Regions from separate parts of the Homo sapiens genome. Here region 1 is linked to region 2. Evidence: fine-mapped expression QTL. A gene starts in region 2. The other region holds a variant in brackets. All regions are shown on one strand. Distances are from middle to middle.

What was found.
Region 1: its variant is fine-mapped to the expression of GTPBP10 in whole blood (INTERVAL, PIP above 0.99). The same link has a PIP of 0.9 or more in T cells, aorta, blood mononuclear cells, breast, cerebellar hemisphere and esophagus mucosa.

Annotation. Positions count from the first base shown.
Region 1 is chr7:90,395,031-90,411,869 of GRCh38, reverse strand. It overlaps CLDN12 (claudin 12), which reads right to left and starts at 8,409. Exons shown (of 4, transcript NM_001185072.3): 1 at 8,321-8,409; 2 at 6,262-6,351. It also overlaps the pseudogene LOC101409256. RefSeq lists an enhancer at 7,704-8,229. The variant C/T (reference allele first, on the strand shown) is at 8,252.
Region 2 is chr7:90,343,219-90,359,881 of GRCh38, reverse strand. GTPBP10 (GTP binding protein 10) reads right to left here and starts at 13,166. Exons shown (of 10, transcript NM_033107.4): 1 at 13,108-13,166; 2 at 6,873-7,066; 3 at 5,333-5,424; 4 at 4,652-4,796. The coding sequence starts at 13,140. LOC107986715 (a long non-coding RNA gene) reads left to right here and starts at 844. Exons shown (of 4, transcript XR_001744961.2): 1 at 844-4,175. It overlaps LOC101927446 (a long non-coding RNA gene), which reads right to left. Exons shown (of 6, transcript NR_110085.1): 6 at 15,788-16,663. RefSeq lists enhancers at 12,921-13,350, 13,561-13,700.

The sequences.
Region 1 (16,839 bases), 52 kb before region 2:
TCAGTGACCCAGCTCACTGCTTGGCACATCACAGGAGTTCAAAGAACATTCATTGAATGAATGTTAAATAAGAAAAAACAAACTGATCTCATTCCTATGTACTAGGCACACTAGGAAATTATAAAAAGTAAATGAGCTCATCTCCAATGAGTCAGTCAAATGAAAAGATGAGAACAATGGTCCCTGAAATTATTCTGCTTAATTACTTCCTTGTTGATTCAACATGACCCAATTACTTCCTTGTTGATTCAAGATGTAGATTTTCAGGGAAATCTACAGCACTTGTTGGTTATTACTACTACTGTTCATATAAGACGAATGCAAACATTTTTCAAGTAACGACAACCTATTTCTATTAATGCTATTATAAGAAAAACAGTCGCCAGGCCTTTCATTCCAAATTAAAAGGCCATGTTCTTTTTCTGTATATGGCAAACTATAAAAAGCTTGCATCTTATTCAGCTTTAATTTCCTCAAGGGTCTGATATTCACTCTCAAAGCAGGACTCAAATGTATTTTCTCTGCCTTCTATAATGCCTACTATGAGGCAATAGAGCAGACTACTTCAGTAAGGTTTACTTTTTTGTTCAGAGCATGATGAAGGGGCAAGGTTGAGAATAATTTTTATTTCTGAATACAGTTCCATCAACCTTTGCAGAATCAAACATCTGCTGGGATGGTGAAGTTGTGTTTCCAAGCTTTCAGGATCAGAAAGACAATTATGACCAAAATGCTAGGAAGCTGGCTTAGAATGTGATTGTTGCATGAATTCCAGTGGGAGGGCACAATGTTCTTTAGAAAACAATGTTATTTGTATATTTAATCTAGTCATATAATATAGGAATAATTTTTTCTTTTTCTTTCTTTTTTTTTTGAAACAAGTCTTACTCTGTTGCCCAGGCTAGAGTGCAATGACACAATCATGGCTCACTGCAGCCTTGACCTTCCAGGCTCAAGCGATCCTCCCACCTCAGCCTCCTGAGTAGCTGGGACCATAAGCACACGTCACTATGTTCAGCTAATTTTTGTATTTTTTGTAGAGACGGGGTTTTCTCATGTTGCCTAGGCTGGTCTCGAACTCCTGGGCTCAAGCAATCCACCAGCGTCAGCCTCCCAAAGTACTGAGATTACAGGTGTGAACCAGCCCTCCTCCTTCCACCCCCACAATTCTTATTCCCTTTCTTCTTTTCTTTCTTTTAGAGACATGGTTTCACCATGTTGGCCAGGCTGGTCTCGAACTCCTGGCCTCAAGCAATCTTGCTGCCTTGGCCTCCAAAAGTGCTGAAATTACAAGCTGGGATTATAGTCATGAGCAACTGCGCCCAGCCAGAATAATTTTACTAACCAAAAAAATGCCTATGTGTACATACATATATTCAAATATACACAAATAGCATATATAAATGTACAATATAAAAATCAGAGTTTAAGCACAAGTAACCATTTTTAAAGCCCTCAAGTTAAACATGGTTAGTTCTAAGTTTTTCCATTAGTATTAGTTTAGTATTTATTATGTTACCTTCTGTCAGTATTATCAGAAGTAGCAATTTCTTAAGAAAATTTTATGAAAGGGAGAGACTAATTACAGTATTTTTTTCAAGCAAATTGGGAAAAAGCTGTCTTGCTTAATTGTGGCAACCAAACACCTCAGTACAGCAATGGAAACTAGTACAGATTTGAGAATGTTTGCACTGGAAAAAGCTACTAGAAATGCCAAGCTCTAGGATACAGCTCTCTGGTGGTCTTTGCTTATTCATCTGTCTATCTCCCCCATACAACTTGTGTGCCTGGCACACAAGTGATTCTAGGATTATTTGAATAAACGAGTATTGGGCTCTGTACAAAGACCCCAGTAACTCACAAAGGTGGGCCACTGGTAATGAAGAACTGTACAAGGAAGTAGCTATTACTAAGAAGCAATCATTCATTCAGCAAGTACTTACATCATGCTGAGTGTCTAGCATATGCAAAACACTCTGTTAGGCCCTGGAAAGACACCAAGACCACTGATAACTGGACCTTGCTCCCAATGTGTTTATAGAGACTTGTGGAAAGAAACGGCTGTCTTATGTAAACTCAAAGTGTTGGTGGTGAATCAACTGTATAATTACTACGTATCAAGTGATTATTGTTAGGTGTTAAGCAAAGTGAATAAGGTACCTGTTCATAAAAATTTATCAGGCAGGAGTTAAAGACTGAGAAATGAAGGAGAATAAGGATTTGATTAAAGTTGTGAAGACATAGGAAAAAGGTTCCCTCGTTTCTTTCAAGCTTCAGAAGTCTTCAGATAACCCACTCAAAGTCCTAATGCAATCACAATTCCTTCTTGCTTTCAGAAGTAATATACTGGCTGGGCGAATTGGCTCATGCCTGAAATCCCAGCACTTTGGGAGGCCAAGGCTGGTAGATCACTTGAGGTCAGGAGTTTCAGACCAGCCTGGTCAACATGGTGAAACCCCATCTCTACTAAAAATACAAAAACTAGCCAGGCATGGTGGCACGTGCCTGTAATCCCTGCTACTCAAGAGGCTGAGGCAGGAGAATCGCTTGAACCCAGGAGGTGGAGGTTGCAGTGAGCCAGATCACACCACTGCACTCCAGTCTGGGTGACAGAGCACGAGACTCTGTCTCAAAACAAACAAACAAACAAACAAACAGGAACAAAAAACAAAAGTAGTATAGAAATAATTGGAATTTCAATGTAATTGAGATTTCTCCAATCAAACTGCCCTGTAACACTGATTCCTGAAATGTAAATGGAGTGAGAAACAAGATCAGGATGTATAACTCCATTATTAATAAATTCCAGGCCAGGTGCTGTGGCTCATGCCTGTAATTCCAGCACTTGGGGAGGCTGCGGTGGGAGGATAGCTTGAGCCCAGGAGTTTGAGACCAGATTGGGCAACATAGCGAGACCCCATCTCTACAAAAAAAAGAAAAATTAATTATTAAGAAAAATAAATAAATTCCTATAATTCTTAGCCTATAGACTATCAAATGACATTAATGAAGAGAGGTACGACAATATATATTTCAGTAGTAAGTGCTTTTAACTATATTCTGCATCAAATCAATACAAATATTATATTGGTTCTCTGAAATTGCCTTTGATGAAGCATTCTTAGCTCAGATCTCAGGGATGGACAGAGGCCTATCTATACAGAGTCAACAAGGATACCACGGCACTTTTTCAGAAGGGAAGTACTATTAACCTTAATTCTTAAGCTAAATTTTGGCCTGATACTGGAATTAATGTCTAGCTTCTTTTGGCTACTTCACCTTGTATGCCCTGTTCTTAATTTCAAATGCCTATGATTTGATAAGTCATATATCCCACCAGAGAGATAAAGTAATTTCTTTTAAGACAGGGTCTTACTCTATCACCCAAGCTGGAGTGCAGGGCATGATCACAGCTCACTAGATTTCAGTGAGCTGAGATCCTGGGCTCAAGTAATCCTCCTGCCTCAGCCTCCTGAGTAGCTGGGATAACAGGTGCATGCCACCATGCCAGACTAATTTTTAAGTTTTCCCTAGAGATGGGGTCTTGCTGTGTTGCCCAGGCTGGTCTTGAACTCTTGGGCTCAAGCAATCCCCCCACCTCCACCTTTCAAAGGGCTGGGATTACAAAAGTAAGCCACCATGCCTGAAGTAAAATTTTATAGGATAGTTTGGGGAAAGAATATGTTTGATGTTTTAAAACAAAGATAATGCTGACTTCCCGATTAGGATTTGTTCATACTTGCAAGGGTAAAAAGACCTCTACTCTTGTGCTGTGTCAATTAGTTTTAATCCACAATAATTTTTTTCAAATGCAAACCTCATCCGCCATTCCATTTCTTACCATTCAATAAGTTCCCATTTCCCACAGAATAAAATCTCTAAAGTTTCAACTCCTCCCCATAGCTTACACCACCTGATTCCTACCAAATTCTCAACCTTCGTATGTGCCACTCTCCCACCCCACACACTACAGTCTATGCAGCCAAACCACATTTCTTTTGACTTCCCAAATTTTCCACTTTCTGATTTGGTTAAGGGCCTTCCCTCATGGTCTTTCTCCTAGAACTTTCTTAATTCCAACCTATTCTTTGCTTGGCTAATATTTACTCATTCTTCTAGTGTCCAGGGAGGCTTGTCCTAAACCTCCCCCTGTCCCTGGTTATATGCTGTGGTAGCACTTTTGCACTTTTTCTTCTGTAGCAGTGATCATTCTTATAACTCCTTGTTCAGTGTAGTTTTCTTTCCCATCAGACTGTGAATTCCAGGGACAGAGATCCCTTTGTTTTGTTCACTGTTCCCTATACTGGCACATAAAAGGCACTCGATTATTTGCTGAATGAATGAACAAACAAATGGAGGTTCTGTATAACTCTGGTCAGAATACAGACAGAAATTTAGTCTCAGTTCCATTCACTTCATTTGAGAGAATTCACACCACCCTGTGTTCTGATACATCCAGACTGTTTCTAGACTGTGCCCCTGCTTTCTCCTTTTTGGCCAAAAGACTCCCATTTTACAAAACAACATTCATTTTCTTACCCCAGAAACCTGTGATTAGCAAAGACAAGGCCATCCTTAGGTACCTACATGCAGACTATGATTCTAGAAATATATATCTAGGTTTAGCAACACTGTCTAACTTCAACAAATGGTTTGAAAGTCAATTATTCCTGGCGCGGCGTGGTGGCTCATGCCTGTAATCCCAGCACTTTGGGAGGCCGAGGTGGGTGGATCACGAGGTCAGGAGTTTGAGACTAGCCTGGCCAATATGGTGAAACCCCGAGACTCCATTTCAAAAACAAAAAGTCCACTGTTCCGGTATTGATTTTTCTGTTTTCAACTTAACAGGTATGTCATGAATTAGACATACTTCTCTTAAGAGTGGTTAATATATCAAATTAATATTTATTAAAGCTAAACAATATATAGTTTTTTTAATGGAGAAAAAAAAACATCTTTTTGCCATGTGAAAATCCCTAATTAGGGACTGTGGAAAACGTGCAAGGCTAAGAACACTTTAACAAATCTGTCAAGCAGTCATGAGTACTAGCTGGATGAGAGCTTTGAGCTAGGTCATACATACACATAAGTGGTTTGTTGTTTCCATCCAGGAGGCTGCTTGGTATTGTTGTCCAGGAGACCAAAGACCTGAATAACATTCATAACCTATCATTTACAAACTGGACAAGTCACTTATGTCCTCTGAACCTCCAATTTTTCATCTGTAAAGTGTCCCACAAAGTAGTAAAATCATGAATAGCAAAGTCCTTTGTAAACCAGAATATGGTCAGAAATGTAAGTCAGTAATGATTATTAGCAGGCTTATTTACTTTTTTCAGCTAGAAACATACTTTTCTTCTGGACCCTCAGCAAATGACTACAGATGGTTATAGTCATATAACAAGAAGGACAGAACATTCTCTTTGGAGATACTGACCAAATCAAATAGAGACTCTATTTCAAATAACCACTTCACATTTGTCATTTGACTCTCTGTTCCACCGTGACTCAGAAAAGTAGATAAAATTTGATACACAATTAAATGTTATCAGAGACATAATTACGAATAAAAATATTTTCAAATTATATATTTTCTGTGGTTTTGAATAGAATTTAAAGAAGGCTGGAGCAGGAACAGTGGCTAAGAGCTTTAGGAAGTCATGTATCCAATAGACCCTGTACTATTTTTTCCAGGCACAATTCTGAGTTATAGTTACAAGAGTTACGAGAGTACATATGTCTAATAGCAGCTAGCTTCTATTTTTTTGAGACAGGGTCTCGCTTTCTCACCCAGGCTGGAGCACAGTGGTGCAATCATGGCTCACTGCAGCCTCGACCTCCGAGGCTCAAGCAATCCTCCCACCTCAGCTTCCAGAGTAGCTGGGACTATAGGCATGTACCACCACAACTGGCTAATTTTTTAAAATTTTCTCATACAGTCAGGATCTCGCTATGTTGCCCAGGATGGTCTCAAACTCCTGGGCTCAAGGGATCCTTCCACCTCAGCCTCTCAAAGCGCTAGGGTTACAGGGCTGAGCCACCATGCCCAGCCCTAACTTAATTCTTGATGGTAACATTGAGAGTTCCTTCTACCTATAATTTGGGTTTTCTTAGAAACTGTAAGTCATCAGTCATTGTACTCACAAGAGAGGTCTGTCCTATACCTCTATTTTGTTGAACAAGAGAAAAAAAAAGAGTCATTGTTGGCAGATGTGGTAGCAGGAGGGAGGGAAATAAGATATAATTAAAGGACGTACTTACGCTTTGAGGTACCTGACAGTTCCAAAACAGCTTTATTCAGCTTAGAAGAGACACATGAAGATCTGAATACAGAGTAGCAATAATCTGAGCCTAAAGAAATAGGAAAAATACTCCAAATTAACATAGTACTTCTCTAAAAACCCTGCTTGAATTCCCATGGATTAGAAGAAATGATTAGTAATCACCTAAAACCAATGAAATGTTATACTAAAAAGGGCAGACAGTAAGTTTTTTAAAAAGGCAGTTTAGCAGGGGCACAGTGGCTTACACCTGTAATCCCAACACTTTGGGAAGCTGAGGCGGGATGATCACTTGAGCCCGAGTTCAAGACCAGCCTGGCCAACATGGCAAAACCCCATCTCTCCTAAAAATACAAAAATTAGCTGGGCATGGTGGCTCATGCCTATAGTCCCAGCCATGTGGGAGGTTAAGGCACAAGAACCGCTTGAACCTGGGAGGTGGAGGTTACCGTGAGCTGAGATTGCACCACTGCACTCCAGTGTTGGTGACAGAGAGAGATTCTGGCTCAAAAAATAATAATAATAATAATTAGCCAGGTGTGATGGTGCACACGTGTTGTCCCAGTTTCTTGGGAGGCTGACATGGAAGGATCACTTGAGCCCAGGAGTTTGAGGACACAGTGAGTCATGATCATGCCACTGCACTCCAGCCTGGATGACATAGCAATGATCTGTCTCAAATAATAAAAAAAAAAAAATAAAAAGGCTGTTTATTCCTTAATTCATGCATTATATATGAGAAATATATAGAATATAGAAAAATACGTAGAAATAGAAGAAAAAAATTAACTCATCTTGTGACTTGAGAATATAGGAGAAATGAGGATGAAAAACACTTTGCTGTCTTGGGAATATATGATTGATATTTAATGAATGTTTTAGATCATTTTCATGACTACGGTGAAAGGATAAGGAAGGTGGTGAAAGACTGTGCAGTTGTCTTGGAAGTAAAAGAAATTTTCTTTTACATTTTTAAAAAAGGACACTGACAACAAGACCAGACAAAGTTGATCTGAATTCTGCATCCTGAAATTTGCAACCAGAATGCTTAAAAAAAAAATAGTTCCACCAATGGCTCAACCTGATACTTAAAGATGCTTCTATATATCTACTTTAAACATTAGCCACTTCCTCTTCAAATACCATTTATCTCAAACAGGTAGGATGAGAATGGAAACTCATTATTATGTGCGCCTGAGAGTTTCCTGGATTGAGGCGTTCATCACTAGCCCTATTACGATCATTATGTAGAATGCTCTCTGCAACTGGCTGCTCGGAGATTTCAGTCAAGTCCCCCCCAACCCCTCCCCCGCCCCAAATGTGTTTCTTGGGTTGGTATCAATCATAATTGCACACTCCAAAGTCAGAGGAAATCGTTTTACAATTAATAACGCACAATAGAATCCTTGAGCAATCATTTTAAGTGAGGTCACCAAGTCTGACCTTTCCCTAACGTGGCTATGGGCCCCTTACAAGGCCGGGTGCACAGAACTTACAGGAAAGCAAACCAAGCTTCCAGAGCAATCCGCATCCCCCTCCGCCCCCCTCCTCCCCCCTCCGCCTCCTCTCCTCCTCCCTCTTTTCGAAGAGCCCTGTGTGTGGTAGACCCAGACCTGGCAGAAGGAAGAAAACGCCCTACTAGTTAGAGCCAATGGAGAGAGACCGCAACAGTGACTGTTAACGCTCTCAGAGCTAGCCCATCCCTGCAACACTGAGTGGGTTTGAACCGCAAGCAGGTCATCATTACGCAACCAGCATCAGCTGGTTATTCAAAAATAGCAGCTTGGGCTCCCCCACAAACCCGCGCCAGCAAAGCTCCCAGTCCTTGGCGGCTCCGGCAACACACCTCGACATTTCCATACTCCTGTGTACAAAATAATTTTTTAAAGCCTTACCAAATACCTACTCAATTTTCACATCCACAGATGTGGTCAGCGTTTTCCAACGCTCCTGATTCTCCTGGATTTAGC[C/T]ATTTTACATAAAATCCTCAGTTACTTATGCAAAAGACCCAGAAATCGGAACATCTTGACCACACCTACCTGCTTCTCACACGCAGGGCATTTTACTCGCCCACACTGAGGAGCCTCTTGGAGCGTCTCCCTCTCAGCGTCCCAGGAAGTGCGTTCCCAGCGAGGTACACCGGAGGCTTCTGGGAGCGCAGTCAGGTTTTCCCGTGGCCCTGAACGGCAATGCCCTGGATGGCTGGGACTACAATTCCCAGAATCCACTGGGCCGCCAGCCGCAGGCAACATCCTGCGACCACCTCCTGCCCTTCCCTTTCTCTGCCTCCACCTCCCCGGATTTCTCTTGCACCTTATGTTCCGTCTAGAATTGGGTTATCGGTTAAAGAAAAAAAAAAGGCAAAACGAAACAAAACTAAAAGTAGTTTTGAGTTGGATACCTAAGTACCCAGGTGACTTGAAGGTGACTTGCCCGTAGGAAGGTTAGCAAAAATTCTTAAATCTGGATTTTTTTTCCCCTCAAAGTGTTTATCTAGGCAAAAAGTAGAAAAAGAGCTCAAAGTCTAGAACCAAACAGCCCAGATTTGTATGGGGCTTTGCTGTGTATTGATTGGGTGGCCCTGGGAAAGTTATCTCTACATCTGGAGGTTATCTGGAAAAATGGGGATAAGATCACCCACATCATACTGTTGTCTTGAAAACTGAGGGACCTAATATAGCTAAAGTACAGTATAGCTAGCTATTAGATATTTGAACTAATTTTACTCTCCCACACAATTTCTACTGTCCTGTCCCTTTCTCTGTTGGCTTCTCTCCAATGTGAAGTCCTGCATTAGTGAATGAATATCTGAATTAAACTAAAAGATTCCAAAGTCCTAAATAGCAATGATCTGATTTTTTAAAAAATAAAGGATGCTGAAGTGTTGTGATGCCTACTACTTCGAAATGATCACACATACACACACACATACACACACACAAATGGATATAAAGTGTGGCAAAGTGTATAATTGTTGGATTCATGAAGAATATGTTTGTGGGTGTCTCTTGTACTATTCTTTCAAATTCTCTGTATCTTAGAAATTTTTCAAAATAAAAAGAAGAAAAAGTATCATAGTTTATACAAAAGGATGGCACCCATCCCAAGTAAGTATAACCTTGGCAAGTAAGGTAACCCCTTTGTGCCTCAAGGTCTCATCTGTAACAGTATATCTACATCAGAAAATTGTGATGAGGATTAAATGAATTACTACAGAGACAGTTACAACAGTATCTGACGCATAATAAGGACTATATGTTTGCTATTAGCATTTTCCATTTTGCGTTGCTCTAGTAACAATGAGACTATTTGTCAGAGACTTTTTAAAAAGGGAGGGTAGAGAGGCTACTATCAGTCCACTGCTACCTCCTTCTTATGTGTGATACTGCTTTAGAGGATGGATAAGGTTATCTAAGGCCAGAAGCAATCCGATCCCAAAGCCAGACTGGGAAATGTAATAATGAGGAAGAAAGATAGCATTGGGTGGTGAAAAGATTTCTGGGCTCCAGGCCAGCTCTGGCAATAGCAGATGGATAATAGCAATGTGACAAACGATAATCACTTATTTCCTCTGAACTTCAGTTCTCTCATCTATAAAGCTGAATTGAATCAAATAACTATGTACAAAATCATCTTATAACTTATTTCCCAATCACTGATGAATACTGCCTGATTAGAGGACTTTAGCTGGGAGGTACTTGCAATTGATTACAATAATTTTAAAAAATCACAGCACAAAAAGGAAGGAAAGACAACCCTATTCCTAGACTTACTGTTCAAGCTGGGGTCTAAAATGCCTGCCTCTGGCATAGCAAAGATGGAACAGAATACTTAAATACCCTGTTGGAGTTCAATAGTTAGATAATTGGAATATAATTCTCAAAAATACTTTAGATAAGAATTTAGATCTGCAATTAACAATCCTGTCTTTCCTCTTTTTCTCATTAGAGATTCTTCAAGGAGAAAGTCAAATCTTAAATTCACTGCAGTGTACCATTCACCACCAAAATTCTACAGAGATTCCCATTTGGTCACTGTGTTAGATTTCTATTGCTGCTGTGACAAATTACCACAAATTCAAAGGCTTAAAACACAATAAATTTATTATCTTACAATTCTGGAGGTCAAAAATCTGACACAGGTCTCACTGTGCTAAAATCAGGATGTCAGCAGGGGTTTTTCCCCTTTTTTACTAATGTGTGATAGATGTTCATAGTGTTTAGAAGTAGATATGATCATATAATACATTCATATAATTTGTAAAGATCAAATCAGTGTACTTGGGATATTCATCACCTTAAATATTTGTCTTTGCTTTATGCTAAAACCATTTGAATTCTCTTCTAGCTATTTTGAGATATACAACACATTACTGTAAACTATAGTCACCATACTAATATAACATTAGTTCTCAGTTCTTCTATCAAACCATATATTTGTACCCATCAATCAACTTCTTTTCAAACCCCTCTTCCACCCTACCCTTCCCGGTCTCTGATGACCACCAGCCTACTCTCTATTTTCATGAGATTCACTTTTTTATGTCCCACATGAGTGAAAACATGTGTTATTTGTCTTTCTGTGCTTGGCTTATTTCACGTAACATAATGACTTCTAGTTCCATCCATGTTGCTGCAAAAGACAGGATTTCATTCTTTTGTAATAGTTGAATAATGTTCCATCGTGTAAATATAGCACATTTTCTTTATCCATTCATCCACTGATGGGCATTTAGGTTGATTTCATATTTTGACCATTGTGAATAGTGCTACAATATACATAAGTGTATTGTTTTTCCAATATATTGATTTCCTTTCTTTTGGATATACACCCAGTAGTGAAACTGCTGGATTATATGGTAGTACTATTTTTAGGTTTTTTGGAAACCTCTATACTATTCTCCACAATGGCTGTACTAATTTGCATCCCCATCAACAGTGTACAAGAGTTTCCCTTTTGCCTCATCCTTGCCAGCATCTATTATTGCCTTTTAGATAAAAGTCATTTTAACTGGGGAGGGATATTGTAGTTTTGATTTGCATTTCTCTAATGAGTAGTGATGTTGAGCATTTTTTCATATACCTGTTGGCCATTTGCATGTCTTCTTTTGAGAAATGTCTATTCAGATCTTTTGCCCATATTTTAATCAGGTTATTTGTGTGTGTGTATGTGTGTTTGCTATTGTTTGAGCTCCTTATATGTTCTCGTTATTAATCCCTTGTCAGATAGGTAGATCACAAATATTTTTTCCCATTCTGTGTGTTGTCTCTTCACTTTGTTGATTGTTTCTTTTCCTGTGCAGAGCTTTTTAGCTTGATATAATCCTATTTATTTTTGCTTTCATTGCTTGTGCTTTTAAGGTCTTACACAAAAAATCCTTGCCCAGACAATGTCCTGGAGGGTTTCTCCAATGTTTTCTTCTAGTAGTTTCATAGTTTCAGGTTTTAGGTTTAAGTCTTTAATCCATTTATATTTGATTTTTGTGTATTGTGAGAGATAGAGGTCTAGTTTCATTCTTCAACATATGGATATCCAATTTTCTGGCATCATTTATTGAAGAGACTGTCCTTTCCCCATTGTATGTTCTTGGTGCCTTTGTCAAAGATGAACTGGCTGTAAATGCATGGGTTTATATCTGCATTCTTTATTCTGTTCCATTGGCCTCTGTGTCTGTTTTTTAAGCCAGTACCATGCTGTGTTGATTACTATGCCTTTATAGTAAATTTTGAAGTCAGGTAGTGTGATATCTCCAGCTGCGGTCTTTTTGCTCAGGATTGCTTTGGCTATTTAGGGTCTTTCGTGGTTTCATATATATTTTAGAATTTTTTAAAATTTCTGTGAAAAATGTCATTAGTATTTTGAAAGGGATTGCACTGAATCTGTCAATAGCCAAGGTTAGTGTCATGCTCACAATATTAATTTTTCAATCCATGAACATGGAATATCTTTCCATTTTTTGTGTGTCCTCTTCAATTTCTTTCATCAGTGTTTTATAGTCTTCCTTGTGTGGATCTTTCACATCTTTGGTTAAATTAATTGCTAGGTGTTTTATATTCTTTGGAGCTATTATAAATAAAATTTCATTCTTGATTTATTTTTCAATTGTTTGCTTTTGGCATATATACATGCTACTGATTTTTGTATGTTAATTTTGTATCTTGCATCTTTACTAAATTTGTTTATCAGTTCTAATAGTTTTTTGGTGGATTTTTCTAAGTAAAACATCATGTCATCTGTAAACAAGGCTAATTCGACTTCTTCCTTTCCAATTTAGATGCTCTTTCTTTCTTTTACGTAATTGCTCTGGCTAGGACTTCCAGTACTATATTGAATAAAAGTGGTGAAAGTGGGAATCCTTGTCATGTTCTAGATCTTAGAGAAAAGGCCTTCAGTATTTCCCTGTTCAGTATAATGTTAGCTATGGGTTTGTCATAGATGGCCTTTATTATTTTGAGGTATGTTCCTTCTATACCCAATTTGATGAGGGTTTTTTTTTTATCAAAAAGCGATGTGGATTTTATCAAGTGCTTGTTTAGCATCTATTTAAATAATCATATTGTTTTTGTTCTTGGTTCTGTTAATGTGATATATCACATTTATTGATTTGCATATGTTGAACCATCCTTGCATCCCTGTAATGAATCTCACTTGATTATGGTGAATGATCTTTATAATGTTTTGTTTGAGAAAGAGTCTTGCTCTGTCATCCAGGCTGGAGTGCAGTGGCATGATCTTGGCTCATTGCAACCTCCACCTCCCTGGTTCAAGCGGTTCTCCTGCCTTAGCCTCCTGAGTAGCTGGGATTACAGGCATGCGCCACCATGCACATCTGATTTTTGTATTTTAGTAGAGATGGGTTTTCGCCATGTTGGCCAGGCTAGTCTTGAACTCCTGACCTCAAGCGGTCTTCCTGCCTCAGCCTCCCAAAGTGCTGGGATTACAGGCGTGAGCCACTGCACACAGTCTTTAACATATTGTTGAATTTGGCTTGCTAGTATCTCAAAATTTGTTGAGAATTTTTACATGTATGTTCATTAGTGATATCGGCCTATAGTTTTCTTGTTTCATTCTGTCCTTGTCTGGTTTTGGTATCATGGTAATTCTGGCTTCATAAAATGGGTTTGGATGTTTTCTCTCGTCTTCAATCTTTTTGAAGAGTTTTAGTAGAATTGGTGTTAGTTCTTGAAATGTTGAGTAGAATTCAGCAGTGAAGCCATCAGGTCCTGGGCTTATTTTTTATTTATTGATGGGAGACTTTTTTTTTTACTCATTATTGGTTTATTGAGGCTATTTCTTCATGGTTCAGTCGTGTGTGTGTGTGTGTGTGTGTGTGTGTGTGTGTGTGTGTGTGTAGGGCTTTTTTAATGTAATACATCTGAAAAGAATGCATATATAGAGTTGAGACATGAGAAAGCATTGGTTCAACACTAGTGAATCTATAAGAATTAGGATTGGGGAAAGGAAAAGATTACCTAAACATTTTTAGAAATTGGGAACTGCAACAAAAATAAGCTGATAAATCCCTGTTAACACTTATGAAGAGCCTTCATAAGACTCTTTCCATGATTTTATTAAACTAGAGAGCCTCATCTAGCTGCTCTAGGGTTCCTCATATGTGAAACAGAAATAAGGGGATTCCCTGACTGGTCCCAATGTTGTTAAGTGTTCTCCTCACCCTCACTTCACCCCCAGCTTCTTAATGAAGTAGGTCTTCATTCCCATAACTTGAAAGGATATGGATCATTCCATAGATGTCTGTCTTCTAGCACCACCTCTCATATTTCCTGTACATACCAGGTCTCCAGCTTCATTCTAGGGATAAAATATACTACTGAGTTGCAAATCTATGCTAAGGATATAAGACAATGACTGACAGGGAAAAATTTATTTTAAAATACATATTCTGGGAGGCCGAGGCAGGCGGATCATGAGGTCAAGAGATCGAGACCATCCTGGCCAACATGGTGAAACCCCATCTCTACTAAAAATACAAAAATTAGCCGGGCATGGTGGCATGCACCTGTAGTCTCAGCTACTGGGGAGGCTGAGGCAGGAAAATTGCTTGAACCCGGGAGGTGGAGGTTGCAGTGAGCCAAGATTGTGCCACTGCACTCCAGCCTGGCAACAGAGCGAGACTCCATATCAAAAAAAAAAAAATTACATATTCAATCCAGTTAGTGTATTTCCAATGTGCAATACTTTTCTTCATTAGTGAAAGAAGTTAGGAATTAATTTTCCCCCAAATCAGGAAATGGCAAATAAATGTCTTTGAAAGTCACAGTCACATATATAGTGCATACTAGAAAAGAGGAGGGACAAGACAGGTTCCACGCACTTTCATGAGTATCATCAGATACTGGATCTATTCAAGGGTAAAGAGAAAAGGCAACTTTCAAAAAGTAGCACATTATTAAATGAAGCATTTACTATACTTCTTCCTAAGAGCACCAGATTGAGAACATGTTTTCTAAATGAGATCTAAAAAGTGGAATGTGGAATCAATCTGTCCTCCTCCCCTTAAGGGCTGTCCATTGGTTAATTAAAATAAACAAGACTAAAAATCAAACCCCACCCATACTCCCCCTCCCAAAAAAGAGGGGGAAAAACTCACTAAAATGTCCCAGATTACTCTCCAGAATAGAACCAGGGAGCAGTTTTAACAATTCAAATTAGTCTGTTACAGAGTCAACACAGCATGCCTTGCTTTTAAACAAAAAATTAAATTAAAAAATAAAATTTTTTTTGGAACAACAAAACAAAAACTAATACTGATCACTTTTCTGACAATACACAATTACTCAAAATTAACTAGTACTGGGAGAGGGAAGGTGGGGATACTTATGGGCCTTGTCTCACACGAGTGCATGTGTGTAAGTCCAGGGCATTTGTCATTATCGCAAAAATGAATTTTGATTTTTAATCTCTAGTTTGATAAACACTGCTTTTGGTATGATGCCAATACCAGCTGTGCAGGAAAGGCTCTGGAAAGATGTTCATAGCAGCACACACTTGCAGCTCTTTTTCAGTTCTGGAGGCTCCAGGGCAGCCAATATGGCTTCATCAGATACATTTTTCGGCCTAATTTGCAGTTTCACTCCAGTGTTGCTTCGATGATTTTCTGTCTGGATGATCTGTTCATTACTGAGAGTGGGGAGTTACAGTCCCCTACTATTATTGTATTGTTGTCCATTTCTCCCTTTAGATCTATTAATGTTTGCTTTATATATTTGGGACCTCCGGTGTTGGGTGCAGATATTTGTAATGTTATATCCTCTTGCTGAATTGATCTCTTTATCATTATATAGTGACCTTCTTTGTCTCTTTTCAGTCTTTTATTTGTAGTCAATTTTATCTGATTTAAGAATAGCTACTCCTGTTCTTTTTTGGTTTCCAGCTACATGGAATATCTTTTTCCACCCCATCACTTTCACCATGTGTATCCTCATAGGTGAAGTGGCAGCATATACTTTGTTTCATATCCATTCAGCCCCTCTATGCCTTTTCATTGGAAAATTGAATCTATTTACATTCAGAGTTATTATTTGATAAGTACTGCCATTTTTTTTTGCTTGTTTTCTGGTTGTTTTGTAAGTCCTCTCTTTCTTTCTTCCTGTCTTCCTTTATGGTTAAATGATTTTCTCTCATTGTATGTTTTAATTAGTTGTTTTTCATTTTTAATAAATCTATCATAGATTGTTGTGTGAGATTACCATGAGGCTTACAAAAAATGTTATTTTAAGGAGATGACAACTTAGATTGCAAAAAAAGTGAAAAAAAACTTGTACACTTTAACTCCATGTCCCACATATTTTGACTTTTAGTTATCTCAATTTACCTATTTTTATATTACCTACCTCTTAACAGGTTGCTGTAGCTATTATTGTTTTTGATAGAGTTGACTTTTGCGCTTTATACTAGAGTTATAAATAAATTGCACACCATAATTACAATACTAGCATATTCTGGATTTATCTGTGTACTTAATTTTACCAGCGGATTTTATATCTTCAAATGTGTTGGATTTTTTTTCTGCATGGTTAGTGTTTTTTGCAGAACTTCCTTCAGCATTTCTTTTTTTTTTTTTTTTTTTTTTTGAGACGGAGTCTCACTCTGTAGCCCAGACTGGAGTGCAGTGGCACGATCTTGGCTCACTGCAAGCTCCGCCTCCCGGGTTCACGCCATTCTCCTACCTCAGCCTCCCGAGTAGCTGGGACTACAGGTGCCCGCCACCATGCCCGGCTAATTTTTTGTATTTTTAGTAGAGACGGGGTTTCACCATGTTAGCCAGGATGGTCTCGATCTCCTGACCTCGTGATCCACCGGCCTCGGCCTCCCAAAGTGCTGGGATTACAGGCGTGAGCCACCGCGCCCGGCAGCATTTCTTGTAAGATGGATTTGGTGGTAGTGTGGGAAGGGACATATATCTCCTTCATATTTGAAGGATTACTTCTGGTTCCAGTATACTTGGATGGCAGGCTTTTTTTCTTTCAGCACTTTGAAAATGTCATTGCACTCCCTCCTGGCCTATATGGTTTGTTGAGAAGTCTGTTGCCAGATG
Region 2 (16,663 bases):
CAAATGCAAATCAAAACCACAAGGAGATACCATCTCACACCAGTTAGAATGGCGATCCTTAAAAAGTCAGGAAACAACAGGTGCTGGAGAGGATGTGGAGAAATAGTTAACACTTCTACATTGTTGGTGGGACTGTAAACTAGTTCAACCATTGTGGAAGACAGCGTGGCGATTCCTCAAGGATCTAGAACTAGAAATACCATTTGACCCAGCCATCCCATTACTGGGTACATACCCGAACGATTATAAATCATGCTGCTATAAAGACAGATGCACACGTATGTTTATTGTGGCACTATTCACAATAGCAAAGACTTGGAACCAACCCAAATGTCCATCAATGATAGACTGAATTAAGAAAACGTGGCACATATACATCATGGAATGGTATGCAGCCATAAAAAAAGATGAGTTCATGTCCTTTGCAGGGACATGGATGAAGCTGGAAACCATCATTCTCAGCAAACTACCATAAGGAAAGAAAACCAAACATTGCATGTTCTCACTCTTAAGTGGGAGCTGAACAAGGAACACATGGACACATGGTGGGGAACATCACACCAGGGCCTGTCAGGGGGTGGGGGTCTGGGGGAGGGATAGCATTAGGAGATATGCCTAATGTAAATGACGAGTTGATGGGTGCAGCAAACCGACATGGCGCATGTATACCTATGTAAGAAAGCTGCATGTTGTGCATACCCTAGAACTTAAAGCATAATAAAAAAAATTTTTTTAAGTTAAAGAAAAAAAAAAAGTATGAGTTCTCTTTTCCCCACATCTATGTCAGCACGTATTGTTTTTTGACTTTTCCATAATGACCATTCTAGCTAAGTTGGTAAATCATTGTGGTTTTAATATGCATTTCCCTGAGTATTAGTGATGTTGAACATTTTCTTATATGCGTATTGGCCATTTGTATGCATATCTTCTTTTGAGAAATGTCCATGTCATTTGTCCACTTTTTAACGGAATTGTTTTTTCCTTGCTGATCTGAGTTCCTTGCAGACTCAGTATATTAGTCCTCTGTTAGATGCGTAGTTTGCAAATACTTTCTCCCATTCTGTAGGCTGTTTACTCTGTTGATTCTTTCTTTTGCTGTGCACAAGACTTTTACTTTAATTAGGTCCCACTTATGTATTTTTGTTGCATTTGGTTTGAGATCTTAGTCACAGATTCTTTGTCTAGGCCAATGTCCAGAAGGGTTTTTCCTAAGTGTTGTAGAATTTTTATAATTTCAGGTCTTAGATTAAAATCTTTAATCTATCTTAATTTTCGTATATAATGAGAGATATGAATGCAGTTTCATTATTCTACATTTGGATATCCAATTTTCTCAGCATCATTTTTTGAATAGGGTATCCTTTCCCCAGTTTATGTTTTTGTGTGCTTTGTTGACGATCAGTTGGTCTTAAGTATTTGGTTTTATTTCTGGGTTCTCTATTCTGTTCCATTGGTCTAAGTACCTACTTCTCTGTCAATACCATGCTGTTTTGGTTACTATAACCTTGTAATATAATTTGAAGTCAGGTAATATGATTCCTCTAGATTTGTTCATTTTGCTTAGGATTGCTTTGGATGTATTTCCATTTGTTTGTGTCATCTATGATTTCTTTCAGCAGTGTTCTGTAGTTCTCCTTGTAGAGATCTTTCTCGACCTTGGTTACGTATATTCTTTGGTATTTTATTTTTTGTAGCTATTGTAAAAGGGATTGAGTTCTTGATTTAATTCTCAGCTTGGTTGTTGTTGGTGTATAGCAGTGCTATTGATTTGTGTATACTGATTTTGTAACCTGAGAGTATACTGAATTCATTTATCAAATCTAGGAGTCTTTTGAAGGAGTCTCTAGGGTTTTCAAGGTATAAGATCATATGGTGGGCAAACAGATAGTTTGACTTCCTTCTTTCCAATTTGAATGCCCTTTTTTTCTCTTGCCTGATTGTTCTGGCTAAGACTTCTCTTTGCACACATCTTTGATTTCTTTCTTGGAATAAATGTCTACATGAAGAAATACCAGATAAAATACATGCTCATTTTAAAGGCTTTGATTATACTGCTAAATTTCCCTCAAGAAAGGCCCACCATGTATGAAAGACAGTACTAGGAATGGGGGTTACTTAAAACATTCATTGCTAAATCTCATTCATATATTTTCATTAAATTTATCCAACAAATATTTATTGAGCACTGACTTCGTATCAGGCAACATACTGAGCAATGAGACAAAATGATTCCCGCCTTCACAGAGTTCTTATTCAAATTTGAAGACGGTACTTCAAAAACTCTGCCAAACTTTCATTTGGAATAATGGTGGAATATTCTGCAAATATTAATTTGGAATTTTATAAAAGCGTATTAGCTGGAGGTATTTCAACAATTTCCCTCATTAAAAAAATCTTTCTGTCATGAATTTAAAATAAAATTATGTGAGGTTTCTTAATGACTTGTTTCTCCTGGAACATATAGTTTTTTCATACCCTGTTTCATCCAGGTTCTTATAGCTTTTGAAAAGCAAATTGCAGCTGTTTTTATCCATAATTATCACTAGCTGGACTTGCTTGTTTCCAACATCCTCATATTTTCATAATGATTGAGCACATAATGCAAGCAACTATTTCCAAGAAGATCAAAGTATGAATAGAAAGATGATGCTAATGACTGAATAACAGATATTTGAAATTTTTCTTGAAAAGTACCCAGTGAAAATTTTACAGGCTAAAATCCAACCTATGCAAAGATCAGATCTGACAACAGCAGCACAAATCTGTTAGTTGTACAATAACTTTCTTCTGTGATTCAGTCCATTTCCAAAACCAGCTAAAAGGATATCTACTTATGCTAGTATTCATAGTAGTAACTCTTCAAGAATAGTTGCCTAATTTAAAAACACTAGAAAATATGTTAAACATTCCACTTAAAAATCTTTTTCCCCCATTCTTGTTTGATATGCTTAAGAATCTTGATGCTTTAATTACAGACAAATTTCAAACCTACTTCTGAAAAGCCTAGTATTTCATTATATGCAGTTTTCCAGTAAGTTGGCAATATAATGATGATGAAGATAGCAGCTACAATTCATTGAACGTACAAAAATGCAAAGCATGTATTCTGCTGTAAATGCATTATCTTACCCACCAACATTTTAAGGAAAGACTTATCTCCATACACTATTAAAGATGAGAAAACAAATGACGTGGTGAAAAGCAAAAAACTATAGTGAAGGAAGAATGAGAGAAAAGAAAAGAAAAAAAGAAGAGAAAACAAAGGCTTAGAGAGGCTGTGTAATTTACCCAAGACCAGCTGGCCAGCCTCCAGAGGATTTGAGATCCTAACCTAAATAGTCTAACCTGAGTCCTCCATGCCACTCCACTTTTATGACTAAGCCGTGCTAGGCTCCTCTTAGACTGTAAAGTTGTCTCTTCAGAACTTGAAACACATGTTTATGCAAAATGCAACTGTGATTGGCTGGACTGCCAGTCTTGTCCATAAGACCCTATTAAGCCCATAATGTTCCTAAAAATATAGAGGATTATAGAACTTACATCTAATAACTCTTGTAACTGTGCTTTATTGAAAAAAATAAATGTAAATGGCAAGCCAGGATCACATCTTTCCTTGTTATAATTTTAGCAGGAATGGGGCCTCTGTGAACCCTAAACCAATGGTGGTAAGCTCTAGTGGCTGGTCAGGCAGGGCAAAAGACGAGGGATACAGACTTAAGAGTCTGGTAAAGAAGCAGTGAGATGACTGAAGAGGAACATGAAAAGAACTTAGAAAGAAGCTATGGGGAAGCAAAAAATAGAACTAGGAATTTGGAGTAGGACAGTAATAAGGCAGTTTTCCTTATCTTGTCCTTAAGCTTTCCATCTGAATAACTGTGTAATACTGTGATAGGGCCAGAGGGAGAGGATAGGAGGGAGGGGGGATGGGGGAGAGAGAGCAAATGCAAATTGAAGTTTTCTCTTCCTTTATGTATTCTGTATCTTACTATCTATCCCCTTCCAGTGGGCAGCTGCACTGCAAACCCCACAGCTAAACAGCATTATTTAATGAAAGAATGGAGGCTGGTGGAAGAGGACACTCTTGTGAGGCCTACATTGCTGAGACTAGATAGATCCTAAGCAGAGGCAAGAAGGATATACAGTCATAGCAGGATTCAATTTGGCGGCAACAGTGCGTAAGTCTGAGGATTGAGATTGTCTGTACTGGTCTTTAGCCATTTGATTAACGATACTTTAATGTCTCTATTAAGACCCAAAAGAGTTATGTCAACCATTTTTCCCTGTTTATTTCCTTCTATATATTTTTAATAATAATACGGTTTGTTTGGATTTATTATTAATATCTGGTAACATTATTTAACCATCTTGTAATATTGCATTTGATTGATTTTTCTTTCTTTATGCATTCTCTAACATTCCCACTGATCTATTCAATTGCTCTGGTCTTAATTTTATAAATAAGCAATAACTATGAAACTCTGTGTTGGCAATTTGAAAATAATATTTAGCAGCATATTTTCCAAGTACATACACAACACACAAATTCCATAAATTAGAAATAATTATGGCCCCAAATTACCATTTACATTTATTTTCTATTCAAGAACTCTCTCTCTGAAAGTATAATAATAAAAATATGAACGATACTTACCCTACTAGGCCTACATCAGCTATAAGTTTTAGATCAAGGTGAATTATTCGTTTCTGGCCTTTCAATGGTAAGAAATTTGTAAGTAATTTACCACCAAGACCTCCTTGAGCTACCAAAATTCTGTCATTTTCTTTATTGAGTTCTCCTTAAAAAGAGGGAGAGAAATACTTACAGCAAAGATTAATAAGTGAAATCACTAATGCAATATATTTCTTTCAGAAATACAGGCAAAGAAATGCAAAATTACAAATCTATAGATTAGTAAGTGAAATCATTAATGTAATATTTTACTTTCAAAAATACATGCCAGGAAATTCTCAATTACAAATCTATAATTAATAAGTAGAATCATTAATGTAATATTGTTCTTTCAGAAAAACAGTCCAGGAAATTCCAATTTACAAATCTATTAAAAGTTTGACCCCAGAAAAACACTTCAGTAAACAATTGAAAAGAGCCTAGTTATATATTTTAAGACCAAGTAAGAACTGTAACATCTTTAAAACAATCTTAAATCTAGCAGTCAATTTAACTTTTATAAGTTTTAAAAATGCTCTCTTATAGAATAGTAGCTAAAATTGTTAGTTAAAAAATCTTCTGAAACTCAAGAGAAGCTATTCCATTGTTTCATTTTAGAAAACGTGCACATTTTTACAACTTTTGGAGTTATAGTACACTCACCTATAATTTTACCATTTTCATCAGTTACTGAAATACCCACAGGCACAGGGATTTCACAGTCTTTTCCTTTGGAGCCTTTCAGTGCACTAATTCTACCAAAAAAAAAGTATATATATGTATGTATGTGTGTGTGTATATATACACACACACACATACACACAAAATGGTTTACAAAGAAGAGTAGCAATCAATTCTCTGGTTAACGCAGATGTTAAATGGTCAAACACGGGGTTTAAAAAAACTAAAATTATCCCTAATTATTTCTTTGCATTTTAGACTATTATATCCCACTAAAATGGCATTAAGTAATGATTTAAGTTACTAAGCTAACCACCAAAGGTCATTTTAACCCGAAACTAAAATATTGCAACCATGAAATGAAGAGATTATTGCTACAATACAAATAGGGTAGAAAAAGCCAGGCGTGGTGGCTCACGCCTGTAATCTCAGCACTTTGGGAGGCGGAGGCAGGAGGATCTCTTGAGTCCAGGAGTTCAAGACAAGCCTGAACACCATAGCACGACCCCATTTCTACAAAAAAAGAAAAATTTAAAAATTAGCTGGGCATGGTGGCACATACCCGTAGTCTCAGCTACTTGGGAGGCAGAGGTGGGAGGATCACTTCAGCCTGAAAGGTAGAGGCTGCAGTGAGCTATGATAGTGCCCACTACACTCAACCTAGGCAACAGAATGAGACTCTGTCTCAAAAAAAAAAGAAAAAATGAATCTATAAAAAAAAAAAGAAAATCCACCAAATAGCAAAGCTTTTAAAAAACTAACCTCAAATGAGAGTACTTACATTATAGAAGGCAAATCTGGCTACTCTTAAACTGCTCATAAAAGAAAAAATTAGTACAAATGTTTTAGTAATTCTACTTCTGGGAATTTATCAAAATAATAATTGAACAAACATGTAAAATAGTATCTACACAGAATGCTGCACTGTGGTTATAATCGGAAAAAAAAATCAACAATAACCTAAATAGACAAATGACAAAATAGTTATTTATTATGCAGGTATTCTGAATAATTTTGACATGTGAAAAAAAGTAAAAATAGCAGATTGTAAAATACTGTACTCTCATTTTTGTATTCTAAACTTTTAGGCACATAATTGCATTTGTGTAAACACACAGAAAAGTCTTAGAAAAGTCAAGAAAAGGTTAATAGTGGTTATCTTGCCTTCTAATGGTGGTGGGGTAGAGTAGCATGGTTAAGACTGAAAGTTTTCTAAAAGGTTGTCAAAGATAATTTTAGAAGAAAACAGTGGGAATTCAGATAATTATCGGTTTCTACAGGGGAAGTGCAAAAAGAATACAGATAGACATTGGGAAAAGAAACGGACAGAAAGTTTTAAAACTCTGAAATATTCTTTAGTATCAGTCTTTTATGAGTTGAGACATTTTAGGCTTTTGCTTGGTTATAAATACAGGAAATAATTTACTTCAAATTAACAATTAAGTTTTTATTTTGTAACTAAAAAAAAAATTTCCAGAAGGGTTTGATTTTCTAAAATTTAAGTCATTCAGTAATTACTTACTTGCTGTTTGCTCCTACTCCAGCCACAAACCGTTTCCGAGGATACCTGTCTTTAAGTTGTTTTAAAGTCATTCTGTTCTGGGCTACAACCCAGACATCACCACCTTTTCCACCTTCTCCACCTAAACGAGGATAACCCATTCCACCGGATCCTCCCCTGGTGAAGAGTCTTAGCTTATCGATGAAATTTCCATACTTAAAAAAAAAAGAGAAAGAATATTTGTATACCAAAAGTGTATCACCTTAGAACCTTTTTCTAGTTCTTTCTTCCACTAAAACTTCTTCTAAAAAAGTCGTTAATAGCTTTTCACATGCCAATTCTATAACATTTTCTTAGCTCACCTCCACATCTCCGATCTGACCCCCTTTCCCATTTGATTATCTCTCTTAAGTCCCTTTTAGTTTTTTCAGTTATCAATTATTGTCCCACCTATCCTGAGGGTTTCTGACTTGGCCCTGTTTTCATTCTAGACTTTCTCCCCTGGGTAATTTCTGCTTGTACCAATAACCATCACCTAGGTGAGATATTTTCTATGTCCAATCTGTCAGACATTTCCACCAGGATGAAAGCTTTTAATAGTATAAAGCAAATGTGAGCAGAATGTGTATTTAACTTATATTTGAAATTCCCCAATATGAAACTTGTTCTTACATATCAGTTGAATAATAGCCACCTCAAAAATAAATGTTAACATAACAAAACCAAACTCTTCCCCAGGTAAAATCTGTTCCTCCAATGTTCTCTAAAGTAACAGAACCATGGTTTACATATTCATTGAGACTACACAAATGGAAGTCTTTCAGACTACACCTGCTTCTTTTCCCAAAGCCCTACTCTCTTCTCTCCAGTACCACTGCCCTAGTACCTGCACCACATGAGCTCCTTTCAGTGTTTAGGCATTTTTTCCTTATTGCATTCTCCAACTTGTTGCCTGAACTATTTTTCTGAAATTGATCTGATCTCTAATCATGTTTCTCCTTTACTCAAAAACCATGCATTAAAAAAATGCTTATGAGCCAAGTGCAGTGGCTCATGCCTGTAATCCCAGCACTCTGGGAGGCCAAGGTGGGCGGATCACGAGTTCAGGAGATCGAGACCATCCTGGCTAACATGGAGAAACCCTGTCTCTACTAAAAATACAAAAAAACTAGCCAGGCGTGGTGGCGGGCGCCTGTAGTCCCAGCTACTCTGCAGGCTGAGGCAGGAGAATGGCATGAACCTGGGAGGCAGAGCTTGCAGTGGGCCGAGATCAAGCCACTGCACTCTAGCCTGGGCGACAGAGCGAGACTCCGTCTCAAAAAAAAAAATGCTTATGAAATAAAGTAAAAAATTCTTAGTACTACAGTTGACCCTTGAACAACACTGGTTTGAGCTGCGTGTGTCCACTTATATACAGATATTTTTCAATAAATATATTAGAAAAATTTTTTGAGCTTTGCAACAATTTGAAAAAACTTACAAAGCAAATAGATTGGAAATATTGAAAAAATTAAGAAAAGCTGTGTGTTATGAGTGCAAAAAATATATAGATGCTAATCTATTTTGTCATTTACTTCCATAAAATATACACATATCTATCTTAATTTTTAAAAACTAGAGATGGGGTTTTGCTATGTTGCCCAGGCTGGTCTCAAACTCCTGGCCACAAACAATCCTCTTGCCTTGGCCTCCCAAAGTGCTGGAATTACAGGCATGAGCTACTGCACCTGGCCACACATCTATTATAAAAACTTAAAATTTATCAAAACTTACACACACACTTACAGATCTTACATGGCAGCATTTGCAGTCAAGAGAAATGTAAGCAAATGTAAAAATGCAGTATTAAATCATAACTGCATAAAATTAACTGTAGTACATCGTGGAATACTGTAATAATTTCGTAGTTACCTCCTGTAACTATCCCGGGATCTCAAGTGTCCCAAGTTGCCACTTAAAAGGCCATGTGATGCTAATCGTCTCCCCATGAGCAGTTCATCTTGCCAGTACATTTTATAAGTCAGTAAAAAGTAATCTCTCACAGTTCTCTTGCATTTTTCATCATGTTCAGCGCTACACTGTAAACCTTGAACACCACCATGGAACCCATACAAAGTGCCACTAGTGATGCTGGCAGTGCTCCCAAGAAGTAAAGTCATGACACTACGATAAAAAGATGAATTGCTTGATATCTACCACAGATTAAAATCTGTAGCTGCGATGGCCTGCTATCTCAAGATAAATGAATCCAGAATAAGAATCAGTGTAAAAAAAGACAAAAATTCATGAAGCCACTGCAGCAGCTATGCCAAAAGGTGTGAAAACCTTGCACTTTTTGTGAATTAACTTTTTATCTTGTATTAAAAAGGCAACTTTTATGTAGATGCAGGATTCCTATTTTAAAAACATAGACTAATACAATAAAAGAAAAAGTAAGGTTACCATATGACAACTTAAAAGCAAAAGGAATGTGAAGGATCTAAAGCTAAAGAATTAATTGCCAGCAAAGGATGATTTGATAATTTTAGAAGGAGGTTTGACTGTGGAAGACAGTTCTAGATTCCTCAAGAATCTAGAACTAGAAATACCATTTGACCCAGCCATCCCATTACTGGATATATACCCAAAGGATTAAAAATCATGCCACTATAAAGACACATGCACACGTATGTTTATTGTGGCACTATTCACAACAGCAAAGACTTGGAACCAACCCAAATGTCCATCAATGATAGACTGGATTAAGAAAATGTGGCACATATACACGATGGAATACTATGCAGCCATAAAAAGGATGAGTGACATGGATGCAGCTGGAAACCATCATTCTGACCAAACTATCACAAGGACAGAAAACCAAACACCACATGTTCTCACTCATAGGTGGGAACTGAACAATGAGAACACTTGGGACACGGGGGGAACATCACACACTGGGACCTGTCATGGGGTTGGGGGCTGGGTGAGAGATAACATTAGGAGAAATACCCAATGTAAATGACAAGTTAATGGGTGCAGCAAACCAACATGGCACATGTATACCTATGTAACAAACCTGCACGCTGTGTACATGTACCCTAGAACTTAAAGTATAATTTAAAAAAAAAAAAGAAGAAATAGGTTTGGCTTTGGCTTTAGAAATATCAAGATAACAGGTGAAGCAGGTTCTGCCAACTAAGAGGCAGCAGATGAGTTCCCAGATGCCATTAAGAAAATCACTGAGACGAAAGAATATCTCCCAAATCAGGTTGTTAATGCTGATGAAAGTACCCTATTCTGGAAAACATGCTACAAAAGACATTAGTAAGGAAGAGAAGGGAGCACCAGGATTTAAGCCAGGAAGGGATAGGCTAACCCTACTGTATTGTGCAAATGCAGTTGTGTTTGTAATCAGGACTGTCCTTATCTATAAAGCTGCTAACCCCTCAATCTTGAAAGGGAAAGATAAACATCAGCTGCCAGTCTTTGTTGGATAAGAAGGCCTAGAGAACAAAAACCTTTTCTCTGGATTGGTTCCATGGATGCTTTCTCCCTGAAGTCAGGAAGTACCTTCCCAATACGAGACTGACTTGTAAAGTTCCTCTGCTAATGGACAGTGCCCCACCTCCCCGCTACCCAGAACCCCATGAGTTCAACATCAAAGGCACTGAAGTGGTGTCCTTGCCCCCAAACACAATGTCTGTAAATCAGCCTCTAGATCACGGGGTCGCAAGGACCTTTAAGGCTCATTAAACATGATTTTCTACGAAAAGGATTGTCAACCATGGAAAAGAACACTAATAGAGAAAACTTCAGGAAAATCTGAAGTTTACATAATTGAAGATGCCATTATTATTGAAAAAGCCATGAAAGCCATAAGCCCCAAACAGTAAGTTCGTGCTGGAGAAAACTTTGTCCAGGTGTTGTGTTGTGTTATAATTTCACAGGATTTACAAAAGAGCCAATCAAGGAAATCATGAAAGAGGCTGTGAATATGCCAAAAACGGCGGGAAAGTGGGTAAAGGACTTCAAGATATGGATCTTGAAGAAACTCAAGAGCTAACAGCCACCAAACCAGAGGAATTAACAGAAGACAGCTTGATGAGTGCTTCAGATCCAGTGCCAGATAACAAGGAAGAAAACACAGAATAAACTACCAGAAAAACGAACATTAGATAATCTGGCAGAAGAGCTCCTATTGTTCAGGACTGCTTTTGACTTCTTTTATGACATGGACCCTTCTGTGAAGAGGCACTGAAACCAAAGCAAATGGTGGAAGAGGTATTGGTACCCTATAGAAACATTTTTTTGGGGGAAAGAGAAAAGCAAAAGCATGACAGAAATTATGATGTACTTCCATAAAGTTACACATAGTGTGTCTGCCTCTCTTGCCTCCCCTTCCACCTCCTCCACCCCCACCCCTTCTGCCTCTGCCACCCAAGAGAGCAAGACCAACTCCTCCTCTTCCTCCTCAGTCTATTCAACATGAAGACTATAAGGATGAAGACCTTTACAATTCACTTCCATTTAATGAACAGTAAATATATTTTCCCTTCTTTCTGACTTTCTTAGTAACTGTTTCTTTTCTCTAGCTTAATTTAAGAATACAGTATATACTATATATATATTTTATATGTGTCAACTGACGGCTTATGTTATCAGTGAGGCTTCCAGCCAACAGATTATTAGTAGTTGTTTTGTGGGGGGAGTTGAAAGTTACATGAAGATTTTCAGCTGTGGCGGGGGCATCTCTAACCCCCATGTTCTTGAAGGGTCAACTGTATATCCAAAGCTACTAAAATACCCTTCTGGTATCTTTTATTTTCTTTTTTTTGAAACAGGGTCTGGTTCTGGTGCCTGGGCTCGAGTGCCGTGGCACTATCATAGCACTATCATTGCTGCAGCCTCAAACTCCTGGGCTCAAGCAATTCTCCCACTTCAGCCTCCCAAATGGCTGGGACTACAGGCACCACACCACCCCGACTGTTTTAAAGATGGGGTCTTGCTATGTTGCCCAGACTGGTCTTGAACTCCTGGCCTTAAGGGATCCTCCCACCTCAGCCTCCCAAGTAGCAAGAACAATAGGCTCACCTACCATGCCTAGTTCCTTCCTGTATCCTTTTCACTTGCTCAACCCTTCCTCTCTTCCTCTTTGCTCTGTACTACATGAAATACCGCCATTTCTACATGCCATTCTGCTCATGCTTTTCCTCTACTTAGAATGTCATTTGTTTTTCCTATCATAAATCCACCTAAACGTCATATTTTCTAACGTCTTTCCAAATTCCTCTAATCAATTCTCTGACTTTGCTGGCTCTCCCAGCAATTTGATTATATCTCTATTATTACACCTTTATAAATCTCACGCTGCATTTAGTGTTTACCTGTTTCCTTCACTAAATCAAGAACTTCTTGTAGGTAAAGGACTTACGTATTAACCTCTTAGGCTATTAAAATCAAAATAACTTAAGGAGTAATTTCTTAAATTCATAATCCACATCTCTAGTCATTTAGGATAGCTATTATAAAAAACAAATGGGATTTTTTTTTCAAGAAAGTTGAAATATTGACCATTCTGATATACTCGAGGAGAGTTTCTACAGTTCCATTAAATATGTAACACTTTTTTCCTGCTCTAGATTAATCAGATTCAGGGGTTTAGGAGCCTTACTTAAAAGGAGTATTTTACTCTGGTCGTTAGAAATAAAGTAATGGCCAAATATGACGCAGGCAACGTTTCAAAAAGCATTACTGATAGGATAAGATTTAAAAAATAAAAATTCAAAGCAGTTGTAAATTTTTACGGAAACGATTCTTAAGACCGACACCACACAAAAATCGACCTAAATGTTCTGCAGGAAGGCACATCAATTACACGCTTTCGTGTCTTCATAAAAATCCATTAGAAAAACCTTAAACAGCGCACTCAAGGAGAAATATATAAAAACAGGCTGTGGACATTAAAGGAAAAAAAACCACCACAACATTTGGGCCACAGCAGGCAGGTATCCCAGTTCCTCATACCACGTGCACACTATGTCTCTAAAGAACTTCAAACCCTGCCCCTGCCCCCAAACAACCGTCCAAACCACGCCAGGTACACACACCACTGTCACCGCTTACTGACAAAGCGCCACTACAGGAGGGGCGGAGAAGTCTATGGGAAAACCAAGCAAGGAAAAGGCCGCCACGAAGACAGTAGTGGAGAGACAGGGGAGCAAAGAAGAACCAGAGCTGTCAGCGCTAAGGGGACCAGGCTGAGGGGACCCGCACGGACCTTTCTGAACAACACGCAACTGCAATGCACCATGGCTGCAACAGGCCAGGAAACCTTCTTGCGGAAGCGGCACAAGCCGCAGTACAGCGCGGCCTTTTTACGTCATCCCCTGCCGCCGACGCGATTTCTCCTCCGCCCACACCTGCGGACTGGCGCATGCGTTGTGTGATGCTCTCGGGCGCCACCAGCCCCATGCGCTGTGCTTTGCACCCCACGGGTGGGGAGAGAAGGCGTTTTATCTATTAAAACACAGAGATAATCTCGAGAAGCCGTGGGACAAAGGACAGTAGGGCGTAGGTTGCGTGTCTCAGGAATTAACATTTTGAATGGAATGGAACTGAAGACTCAGCAGCCTTGGAGCAGCTTTTATGCTAATTGAGGAAACTAAGAATCTTCACCCTCAGCGTGAAAAAACCTCCAACGGACCATAAAACCAAACGTGTAAAAGACACAGAAACTCAACTGGGAAAAAAGAACCCCCAAAAGCCGTTAGTTCAGTGACGAGCTGAGTAGTCTCCAGCCAAAGCTTCCAGGAGACCATGAATTTAAAACTAGCGGCCGCACAAAGTTTTATTGAAAATAATGTCAGGATCTGAGATCTGTAAGAGGACTCTCCTGTGCAGTAAGAGAAAGAAGCTTGTTTACAACTGTCAGAAAGTAGCTTCTTGGAGTCGGGAAGACGGGTTTTTATCCGTCATTTGAAGCGTGCCTTTGTGAGAATTAAGACACGATGTGAAAAATCCCTCTCTCTCTTGATTACTTTTCAGGACCAGAAGAGAGTAGCTCTCCCCAACCCCTCATGCAGCGAAAAAATGTATGCAGCTGAAGTAAACGGCCCTGCACAGCGTTGCCAGCCGTATAACTCTTAACAACCCAAACTAATAAATCCTAGAAACCTTTCATACTTTGATACGATATGGCTCTGTGTCGCCACCCAAATCTCATCTTCATTTGTAATCCCCATTGTGGAAGTAGGGAAGTGATTGGATCATGCAGGGCTGTTTCTCTCCTGCCGCTCTCCTGATAGGGAGTTCCCACAAGAGCTGACGGTTTTATAAGTGTTTGGAAGTTCCTCCTTCTTTCTTCTCTCTCCTGCTTGCCATGTGAAGAAGGTGCTTGTTTCCGCTTCCCCTTTTGCCATGATTATAAGTTTTCTAAGGCCTCCCCAGCCATGTAGAACTGTGAATCAATTAAGCCTCTTTCCTTTATAAATTACCCAGTCTGCGCAGTTCTTTATGGCACTGTGAAAACTGACTAATACCTCAATGTGACAGTGTCTTCTACTCCTCACTTAGGACAGTGATTATTTGGAAAGACATGATGTGAAAACCCCGTCTTGATTACTTTGCTGCTACTGGACCTTCTGCTTACAACCACCAATCAGAAAAGCTGTAGTTGTCATTTAACCTGCAGTAGTTGTATTTTCCCTCTGTGGATTACTTTAATGTTGAATATTAACACCAGCAACAGATGTTGATTACTATCAGTGTTCCTACCTCTCATTAATATGAACATTAGGTTGTTGCTGTGTAGATGTTTTTAATTTAATGACATTTGCTGCCATTAAGATTACTATCTTACTAGGTTTTCCTATTGTGTCAGAATAGTGTTGAGCCCAATGTACTTATTTTCCAATGCCTATTTCTTGTTAGTGAACACAATCTCAAATACTTTTCTTTCACATAACATATACATGGGGAAATGATCACAGCAACTAAAAAAAAAAAAATGGGAGATTGATATAGAAATATCTCAAAATGATGAGGATCATTGTGTACTGTAAACAAAAAAGAAAGCATAATATTTACCTCTGACAAAATGTGGTCAGGGCCTGAAGTATTTATTATAACTCTCATTACCAGATAGTAAAAGAAACATTGTGTAACTGGAAACTGTCCCCTTTAAAATGTGCAGCTAAAATGAACATGAGGCAAAATGTTTAGGACACTATTCAGACCTAAGGCAGAAGTCATTGTTGGAAAATACTACTACTTCTGCCATGAAGAGGAAAGAATGCCTCCTTAGGGTTGCTCAGTTTGATGTATGGGCAAACCATTAAAGTCAGTGGCACTAAAGAGTCTTGAATAAAGTCCCAAATAAGCCATCGACATGACTCACAATTTGGTTTTAAAAATATTTTAAAACAGGCCAGGCGCAGTGGCTCACGCCTGTAATCCCAGCATTTTGGGAGGCCGAGGCGGGTGGATCACGAGGTCAGGAGATGGAGACCATCCTGGCTAACACGGTGAAACCTCGTCTCTACTAAAAATACAAAAAATTAGCCGGGCGTGATAGTGGGCGCCTGTAGTCCCAGCTACTCAGGAGGCTGAGGCAGGAGAATGGCGTGAACCTGGGAGGCGGAGCTTGCAGTGAGCCGAGATAGCGCCACTACACTTCAGCCTGGGCGACAGAGAGAGACTCTGTCTCAAAAAAAAAAAAAAAAAAAACAAAACAAAACCATATATATACACACATACATATATACATACATATACATATATACATATATACATATATACACATATATACATATATATGCATATATACACATATATACATATATACATATATACACATATATACATATATACATATATACACATATATACATATATACATATATACACACACACACACAATAATGAGGGTTATGAAAAAATTTAATATAGAGTTGTTCTAATTACAATTTTAAATAATTTTATTTTGAAGTACTTTTTAATTTACAGAAGTTACAAAAATAGCCAAAAGAGATTCCATGTAATCTTTATCCAGTTTGCCCGAATGTTAACATCTTTTATAACCATTTTTCAAAACTAAAAAAATTAATATTGCTAGAATATTAACTAAACTACAGACTATTTGCTTTCACTGGTTTTTCACCTATGACTTTACTCCAGGGTCTAATACTAACACCACATTGCATTTAATCTAACATTTAATGTAGATACACTTAAGCATAAAATAGACAAATATATAATTAACAAATCTAATATTTTGTGATGTTATATTGCTTAATTTTGTCAGCAGACTAAAATGAAAAGTGTCTAACTTCATTCTGGGCTTTGCAGATTATTTCAATTGATCTTGTGTCATCATCTCAACTGCTTTTAATTAGATTTCTACCTTTTGTCTATCATGCTTTTAGTTCTGCTTGTTCAAGAGTCCCTAACAAGGTCCGTCTGGCTCAGGCCTTGTAATCAGTAGATACTCTAGGAATATTTGTTAATTTATTCAAACGAAAGACAAGAACTAGATTGCTAACTCCTATAGCATACGAATCACCTGAAGTGGAGCATCGAGTTATTCTTACTCATTAGCCTTATAATCCTTCAGATGTAACAAATCAAATATTATTTGTTTCATGCCGTCAAAATATTACAAGTCTGAGAACCATTATATCTCCCAAATGATGAAGTTAAATGGATCAAACAAATGAGGTTTACATACTAGGTAAGACCTCTTTGAGTAAAAATGAAGTATTCTCAAAGAGAGGGCCTCAGGCCATGTAATTATTGTCTTCAAACAAGGCCTATGTGAGGGAAAAAAAGTGGATTTA